2 separate regions of the Homo sapiens genome follow, and region 1 is linked to region 2. Evidence: fine-mapped expression QTL. A gene starts in region 2. The other region holds a variant in brackets. All regions are shown on one strand. Distances are from middle to middle.

The links. PIP is the estimated chance that this variant, and not a neighbour inherited with it, causes the effect.
Region 1: its variant is the best candidate, but not a certain one, in a credible set for the expression of CCDC120 in testis (GTEx, PIP 0.57).

Annotation. Positions count from the first base shown.
Region 1 is chrX:49,011,485-49,015,871 of GRCh38, forward strand. No RefSeq gene overlaps it. Among named protein-coding and RNA genes, the nearest start is that of GRIPAP1, 11 kb to the left of the region's middle. The variant T/A (reference allele first, on the strand shown) is at 1,928.
Region 2 is chrX:49,056,716-49,061,102 of GRCh38, forward strand. It overlaps CCDC120 (coiled-coil domain containing 120), which reads left to right and starts at 2,284. Exons shown (of 11, transcript NM_001163321.4): 1 at 2,284-2,380.

The DNA.
Region 1 (4,387 bases), 45 kb before region 2:
TTACAGGCATGAGCCACCAGGCCCAGCCAACTTTTTTTTTTTTTTTTTTTTTTTTGAGACAGAGTTTTGCTCATATTGCCCAGTCTGGAGTACAGTGGCGAGATCTCAGCTCACTGCCACTTCTGCCTCCCGGGTTCAAGCAATTCTCCTGCCTCAGCCTCCCAAATAGCTGGGATTACAGGCATGCACCATCATGCCTGGCTAATTTTTGTATTTTTAGTAGAGATGGGGTTTCACCATGTTGGTCAGGCTGGTCTCCAACTCCTGACCTCAGGTGATCCACCTGCCTCAGCCTCCGAAAGTGCTTGGATTACAAGCGTGATCCACTGTGCCCAGACTTTTCATTAATTTATTTATTTTTGAGATGGAGTTTGGCTCTCATTGCCCAGGCTGGAGTGCAATGGTGCGATCTCTTCTCACTGCAACCTCCACCTCCCCAGTTCAAACTATTCTCCTGCCTCAGCCTCCCAAGTAGCTGGATTACAGACATGCGCCACCACACCTGGCTATTTTTTTTTTTGAGATGGAGTTTTGCTCTTGTCACCCAGGATGGAGTGCAATAGCGTGATCTCAGCTCACTGCAACCTCCACCTCCCGGGTTCAAGTGATTCTCCTACCTCAGCCTCCCTAGTAGTTGGGATTACAGGTGCCTGCCACCAAGCCTGGCTAATTTAAAATTTTTTTTTTTTATTTTTAGTAGAGATGAGGTTTTGTCACGTTGGCCAGGCTGGTCTTGAACTCCCGACCTCAGGTGATCCACCTGCCTCGGTCTCCCAAGTGCTGGGATTACAGCCATGAGCCACTGCATCCAGCCTTTCAGCCTTTTCGAGATAGTGTCTCAACTCTAGTCTCCCAGGCTAGAGTGTAGTTGCATGAACACGGCTCATTACAGCCTTGACCTCCTGGGCTCAAGTGATCCTCCCACCTCAGCCTCCTGAGTAACTGGGACCACAGGCACCTACCACCAGGCCCAACTAATTTTTGTATGTTTTGTAGATGCGCCCACCACCACACCCAACTAATTTTTGTATGTTTTGTAGAGATGGTTTTTGCCATATTGCCTAGGCTGGTCTTGAACTCCTGAGCTCAAGCAATCAGCCTGCCTCAGCCTCCCAAAGTGCTAGAATTACAGGCATGAGCCACCGGGCCAGCTGCAACTATTCTATTAATCCGAAATTATTTCAAGACATAATTTAAAATGGAAAAACCGGCTGGGCGCGGTGGCTCACACCTGTAATCCCAACACTTTGGGAGGCCGAGGTGGGTGGATCACTTGAGACCAGGAGTTTGAGACCAGCCAGGGCAACGTGGTGAAACCCCCTCTCTACTAAAGATACAAAAATTAGTCGGGCTCGGTGGCACACACCTGTAGTCCCAGCTGCTCGGGACGCTGAGACACAAGAATTGCTTGAATCTGGGGGACAGAGATTGCAGTGAGCTGGGATCGCACCACTGCACTCCAGCCTGGGTGACAGAGCGAGACTTCATCTCAAAAAAAAAAAAAAAGAAGAAAAATAGAAAAATGAAAATGAAACCAAATCTGTACCCTAGATGCGCTTATTGCTCATTGCTAGAGATATATCTGTTTGTAGGCCCTCTCAGTGAACAGACAGGGGACACATACACAGACATGCACACTAGTTCTCTTTATAACATAACTCTCTTTCTCTGTCTATATATAAAACCATGAGATCATCCTGATACCTCCAATTCCAATTCAACACTTCAGGGTAAACTTTTGTTTTCCCCATCCATATTTGTCACTCTTTTAGTAAGTAATCTAACTCCCATTATTCCTAATTACTTGTTTCCTCAAACCTAGATTACACAAAGGAATTTTCAGAATTGCCTAACCCACACCACTACAAAAGCAAATCTACTTACCAGAGTACAATATTTGTTTACAGATATATATATATATTTTTTT[T/A]AGAGACAGCGTCTTGCTCTGTCACCCAGGGTGGAGTGCAGTGTGGAACGATCTCAGCTCACTGCAACTTCCACCTCCTGGGTTCAAGCAATTCTCATACTTCAGCCTCCCAGACCTTTTTTTTTTTTTTCTTTAAGACAGGGTCTCACTTTGTCACCCAGGCTGGAGTGCAGTGGTGTGATCACAGCTGACCGCAGCCTCAAACTCTTGGGCTCAAGCGATCCTCCCACCTCAGCCTCTTATGTAGTGGGGACTACAGGTACATGCCACCACGCCTGGCTAATTTTAAAAAAAATATTTTTTTGTGGCCGGGGGCGGTGGCGCACGCCTGTAATCCCAGCACTTTGGGAGGCCAAGGCGGGCGGATCACGAGGTCAGGAGATCGAGACCATCCTGGCCAACACGGTGAAACCCCGTCTCTACTAAAAACACAAAAAATTAGCTGGGATTGGTGGCACGTGCCTGTAGTCCCAGCTACTTGGGAGGCTGAAGCAAGAGAATCGCTTGAACCTGGGAGGTGGAGGTTGCAGTGAGCCGAGATCGCACCACTGCACTACAGCCTGGGCGACAGAGTGAGACTCCATCTCAAAAAAAAAAAAAATTTGTAGGCCGGGCATGGTGGCTCACACCTTAATCCCAGCACTTTGGGAGGCTGAGGTGGGCAGATCACCTGAGGTCAAGAGTTCGAGACCAGCCTGGCCAACGTGGTGAAACCCCATCTCTACTTAAAATACAGAAATTAGCTGGGCATGGTGGCGGGCGCCTGTAATCCCAGCTACTCAGGAGGCTGAGGCAGGAGAATCGCTTGAAGCCAGGAGGCAGAGGTTGCAGTGAGCCAAGATTGCGTCATTGCACTCCAGCCTGGGCAACAAGAGCCAGACTCTCAAAAAATATATAGATAGATAGATAGATATGTATATATATATACACACACTATATATACACATACATATATATATATACACACACATACATATATATACACACACATATATATATAGTAGAGACAGGGACCTTACTATGTTCCCCAGGGTTGTCTCCAACTCCTGGCCTGAAGCAATCCTCCTGTCTCAGCCTCCCAAAGTGCCCAGATTGCAGGTGGGAGCCAGCATACCCAACCCATTGTTTACAGGCATTTTTCTTTTTTTTTTCTTTTTTTTTTTTTTTTTGAGACAGAGTCTTGCTCTGTCGCCTAGGCTGGCTGGAGTGCAGTGGCGCAATCTCGGCTCACTGCAAGCTCCGCCTCCTGGGTTCACGCCATTCTCCTGCCTCAGCCTCCCGAGTAGCTGGGACTACAGGCGCCTGCCACCACGCCCGGCTAATTTTTTGTATTTTTTTTAGTAGAGACGGGGTTTCACCGTGTTGGCCAGGATGGTCTCGATCTCCTGACCTCGTGATCCGCCCGCCTCGGCCTCCCAAAGTGCTGGGATTACAGGCGTGAGCCACCGCGCCCAGCCTGTTTACAGGCATTTTTGAGGTAAAATTTACATGTGGTAAAATTCACAAATCAAAATTCACAGCAGCCTGATAAAGAATACACTTGGCCGGGTGTGGTGGTTCGCGTCTGTAATCCCAGCACTTTGGGAGGCCGAGGCTGGCGGATCACGAGGTCAGATCGAGACCATCCTGGCTAACATGGTGAAACCCCATCTCTACTAAAAAAAAATACAAAACATTAGCCGGGCGTGGTGGCGGCTGCCCATAGTCCCAGCTACTTGGGAGGCTGAGGCAGGAGAATGGCGTGAACCTGGGAGGCAGAGCTTGCAGTGAGCCGAGATCGCGCCACTGCACTCCAGCCTGGGTGACAGAGTGAGACTCCGTCTCTAAAAAAAAAAAAAAAAAAAGAATACACTCAAGTAGCTCCTACCCCTATCATGATATAGAATGTTTACATCAGCAGGGCGCGGGGGCTCACACTTGTAATCCCAGCACTTTGGGAGTCCAAGGCGGGCAGATTACGAGGTCTGGAATTCAAGACTAGCCTGGGCAACACACTGAAACACCGTCTCTACTAAAAATACAAAAATTAGCTGGGTGTGCTGGCGGGTGCCTGTAATCCCAGCTACTCGGGAGGCTGAGGCAGGAGAATCGCTTGAACCCAGGAGGTGGAGGTTGCAGTAAGCTGAGATCGCGTCACTGCACTCCAGCCTGGGCGACAGAGCTAGACTCTGTCTCAAAAAAAAAAAAAAAAAGAATGTTTACATCACCCCAGTTCTTTCCCAGCTGTTCTCAGTCAATCCTCTCCCCTATGAGGCAATGAGTGTTAAAACTTCAGGGATCCTGTAATACCAGCACTTTGGGAGGCCGAGGCGGGTGGATTGCTTGAGGCCAGATGTTGGAGACTAGCCTGGCCAACATGGCGAAACCCCATCTCTACTAAAAATACAAAAATTAGCTGGGCGTGGTGGCATGCGACTGCAGTCCCAGCTACTCAGGAGGCAGAGGCACAAGAATTGCTTG
Region 2 (4,387 bases):
AACAACTGTTTCAAATGTATCAAGTGAGACTGAAGGACACCAGCTCTGTCTGGAAAAAATGTGTCTGAATGTATCTACTTGATTCCTGACTTCCTGTGGGGAAGAATACTTGTAACTGTGACAGCCAACATACACTGAGCTCTTACCAGGCACTGTTCTGCACAAGCTTTAAATGTATTAACTGATTTAATGCTCACAATAGCCCCGTGAGGTACATACTGTTATCATCGTCCCCAATTGACAGAGAGGCACAGAGAGGTTAAGTGACTTGTTCAAGCAGTCACACAGCTAGTAAGTGGCAGAGCTGGGTTGAATCCCAGACTCACCATTTACTAGTGACAGCAGGGTCACGTGAGGCCCAGGGCCCAGCTGGGGTAGGGCTTAGAGGTTGGGTCCTCTTCGAGGCTATTAAAAGTCATGGACCAGGGCAATGATGTGTGTTAGTGACTGCCCCATTTGTCTGCCTGGCCCAGGAGGTCCAGTTACCTGCTCTCCCCCAGTTACCCCCACAACAGCCCACCTCTGTGTGAGTGTATTAATTGTTGTTAGTAAGAGTCATTAATGACATGGTGTGTTTCCTTGCACTTTGAAATGCCTTTCAAAGTTATTTGGGGCCTCCATTGTCTCTGTAACCACCTTTTACCCATTTTACAGATGAGGAGACCTAAGCTTTGAGACTCAATCTACATTGCCAGCCAGATTCTCATCCCTCTTGGCTCTGATTTTATTACTGTCTCACTTCCCAACATCTTTGGTGGCCCATAAGAGGTGGGAGAGGCTGTGGCCGAGAGGACACTCCCCAATGCCCACCTTACCACTGCCCGCCCCAGGCAGTGAAGTGGGGAGGGCGATGAAAGGGGCCTTTGTGTTCCATGCTGGAAATCTCACACCCAGGAAGAAAGGTGGGCAGGGATGGCGGGAGGCCTTAATAGTATGAGTCTGGGGCATTGCTGATTCAGAGTGAGCTCCTCTCTAGGCTCAGCCCATCTGCAGCTTTTCTCACTTCAGGTCATGGTGTGGGCTGCTGCAGGGGTCTGGGTAGGGCTTGGGCCCTGGGTCACAGAGCAGATGGTCCTGAATGGAGCACAGGATGTGTGCTGTGTGCCGGGACTGGCCCAGAGCTCAGGTGGTAGTGGTGATGGTGGTGGTGGTGATGGTGGTGGTGGTGGGCGGGGTGAGGGGAGGCAGGGACAGTACGTCGTAAGGACTCAAAGCTCTCATTTCCTTCTCTGGCATGAAGCCTGACTCTCTGAAGAAGAGAGACCCAGCATGGATGTGAAGAAGCATGAGCCCCCTTCCCTACTTCTCCTTCCCACTTGCAGGAGTAGCCTCTGTCTGCCTCCCAGCCAGGACCCAGCCCCCGGAAATTCTGATTTCACCTGCTCTTCTGCCACTGTGATCTGAATCAGGCCTCTTCACCTTTCCAGGCCTCAGCTTCTGCATCTATAAAATGGCTGTGAGGAGGCTGGGTCTGTGCCATCCTGCTACATTTGTAGGAACCAAGAGGGATCAAAACCCATAAGTGTTTTGTAGGGTGTAAGTTGTGCTTGATTTATTGAGATTATTTCTTCTGGAGCCACAGAAGGATCTTGAGACCTGACCTCTCCTTAGAAAGGTTGACTTCCTCTGTCCCCAACTTGGGAAACTATTATTCCCCAGTGAGGGTGGGAATTGCCCCAAGGCCTTCTACCACTGCCTTGCCCTGGGAGGAAAGGGTAGGGGCCTCAGAATGTGATGCTTAGTGCCAAGACACAAAAACTCAGTTTACACCCGAAGCCTCCCATGTACTTTACAGCTCCCCACACCTCTATGGCCCAGATCCAAGTTGCCCCTTGGGTGGGCAGCGTCTAATCCTCTGGGAATTTGGGCAGTAGGAGAGGCAGCTGCTACTCCCACCACTCTCAGCCCTTCTTCCCAGTTTTCTGCTAAGTGTACGGGGTGAGGAGGCACAGGCCTCCATGCCTGGCCAGTTTTAAAAAAAATTTTTGTAGAGATGGGGGTCTCATTATGTTGCACAGTCTGGCCTTGAACTCTTGGCTTCAAGCAATCCTCCCACCTCAGCCTCCCAAAGTGCTGAGATTACAGGCACCAGCTACCCTGCCTGGCCCAGGCTGTCTTCTTAGACATGCTGAGCACCCTGAGTGGACCTGGCCCTGAAACTGCCCCCAGGGGTGACCCTAGTCCTGGTGGCAGACAGGCAAGGGTTAAAAGGTGTGGGCCGGCCCAGTTCCTGGCCAGGTAGGCTGGGCCATTACCTAGTGGGAGGTGGCCAAGGCATCTGCCACTGCTGCTGACTGCCACTACCAGCCGGAGCCAGGGCCTGGTCGAGACAACTATTTTTGAGGTATCTGAGGCTACCCCACAGCACTCTCTGGCATTGGTGAGCACCTGGGAGCAGTGGGCCCAGGGTGCGAGGGGGATAAGGGCATTGGGGAGCTGGGGCAGGGTGTACTGAAGTTCCCTTCGGTAGAGAGCTAGGTCTGTGGGAGAGGCACACCAACAATGCAGGGCAGGGTGGTGGTGGGGGGGTAGGGGGGCAGTGAGAATGGAGGGCCTGAGGACAGGGGCAAAGCCCAAAACACCAATTTCCTTTCCTGGCACCAAGCCGATTCCCGGCCGGAAATGGACGAGGAGGGATCGGGGAAAAGAGAAGTATGAGTCCCCCCTTCTCCACCCTATCCCTGCTTCCTTTCCTCCCCGCCAGGAGTAGCCTCTGTCCTCCCCCAACCCAGGGCCCAGCTCTCCAAGAAAGACCAGACTGGGCTACTAAGAAACCATTACTCAGGCACCTGCCTGCCTATGCCTGATTTGTTCACTGCAGTGGAGGAAGCAGGGGCTCTGGGGAGGGTAATGGCCCAGACATTGAGATTTTGTATTTGCTCTAATAGTGGCAGGATGTGGAAATGACCCCCCAACTGTTGGGGTGCCACCCAGGTGAGGTATCTTGGTTGTAAACAGTTATTACAGCCAGGAATTTCTTTCTCGGCTGTGGTGTCAGAATGGCAGACCTGAAAAACCTGCCGGGCCCGCCTCTGGGTGTGGGGGGTGCCCTCTACTGCTCTCCCGCTGCAGCTGGTCCCTGGGACAGGATGGGGGCCATGGGGTCACTGGTAGGGGGAGACCTGGGGTTGGTGTGGGGGTGTGCTGGGGAGGGGTTTGCTGGGATCCCTTTCTCGCCATCTGGGCGGGGATGAGGCAGCTCCAGGCCCCAAGGCAAGTATGCAGAGGGCAGGTGAGCGGAGGCAGAAGCTTAGGAACTGGGTGTGGGGGTGTGGGGCGTTGACTGTGTCTAGCCTGCCCAGTGACCCCATGACTCATACTCTAACTATGTCCCCCCGAGGTCGGGCTGATAGGGAGGAGTTGGGGTTCCTGTGTGGACCCTGTCTGGACTTCCAGGACGCTCTGAGAAATTAGAGAAGAAAGGATTGGCTGGGTGCAGTGCCTCACGCATGTAATCCCAGCACTTTGGGAGGCCGAGGCGGGTGGATCACCTGAGGTCAGGAGTTCGAGACCAGCCTGGCCAACATGGTGAAACCCAATTTCTACTAAAAATACAAAAGTAGCCAGGCATGGTGGCGTGCACCTGTAATCCCAGCTACTTTGGAGGCTGAAGTGGGAGAATTGCTTGAACCTGGGAAGTGGAGGCTGCAGTGAGCCAAGATCGTGCCACCACTGCATTCCAGCCTAAGTGACAGAGCCAGGCCCTATCTCCAAAAAAAAAAAAAAAAAAAAAAAAAAAAGAATCGAAGCAGCCCAGCATGGAATTGGGATTGGATTGGGACCAATGCTGGCAAGGGGGACCGTGGATGGAGTTGGGTTCCTGTGGGGGTAAAGGAAGGTTCCAGGGAACCCTGTGAGAGTTCCTTGGGCCTAAATGGGGGCTGGGAAAGTTGGAGCCCCAGTGATCTGGGATGTGGAGGAACCCCTGCCATGCTGGGAAGTGTCAGACCTTAGATGAGTGGGGATGTGGGGCCTGGGTTTGTCAAAAGGCTTTAGGGACTGATCCCCACCCCTGCTGTTGAAGGCAGGGCACCACTGCTTCAAGAGAGGGGTACAGGCCCTATGGGGCAGGCAGGAGGACTGCAGAGAAACATGACACCTTACAAGCAGCTTGGCCTCACCCCACAATACACAGATGGGGAAGGGGCTTGAACCCATGCCTCCTTGGTTGGCTGGGTCTTCCTCACACCAGGCTAACATGTCATGACAAGCTGCCGACTTCAAGGTAGGTGATAATGGAGCTCTGTGGCCCCATAAAGCCCTCCCAGTCACCTGCCACCTAGGTTAGGCCAGGTGGTGGGAGGTGATGTCACTCAGCTGCCCAGCTGGGGACTGAGCATGATGTGGAAGGAAGGGAGCAAACTCCAGAGGAGGGGTGGCCAGCCAA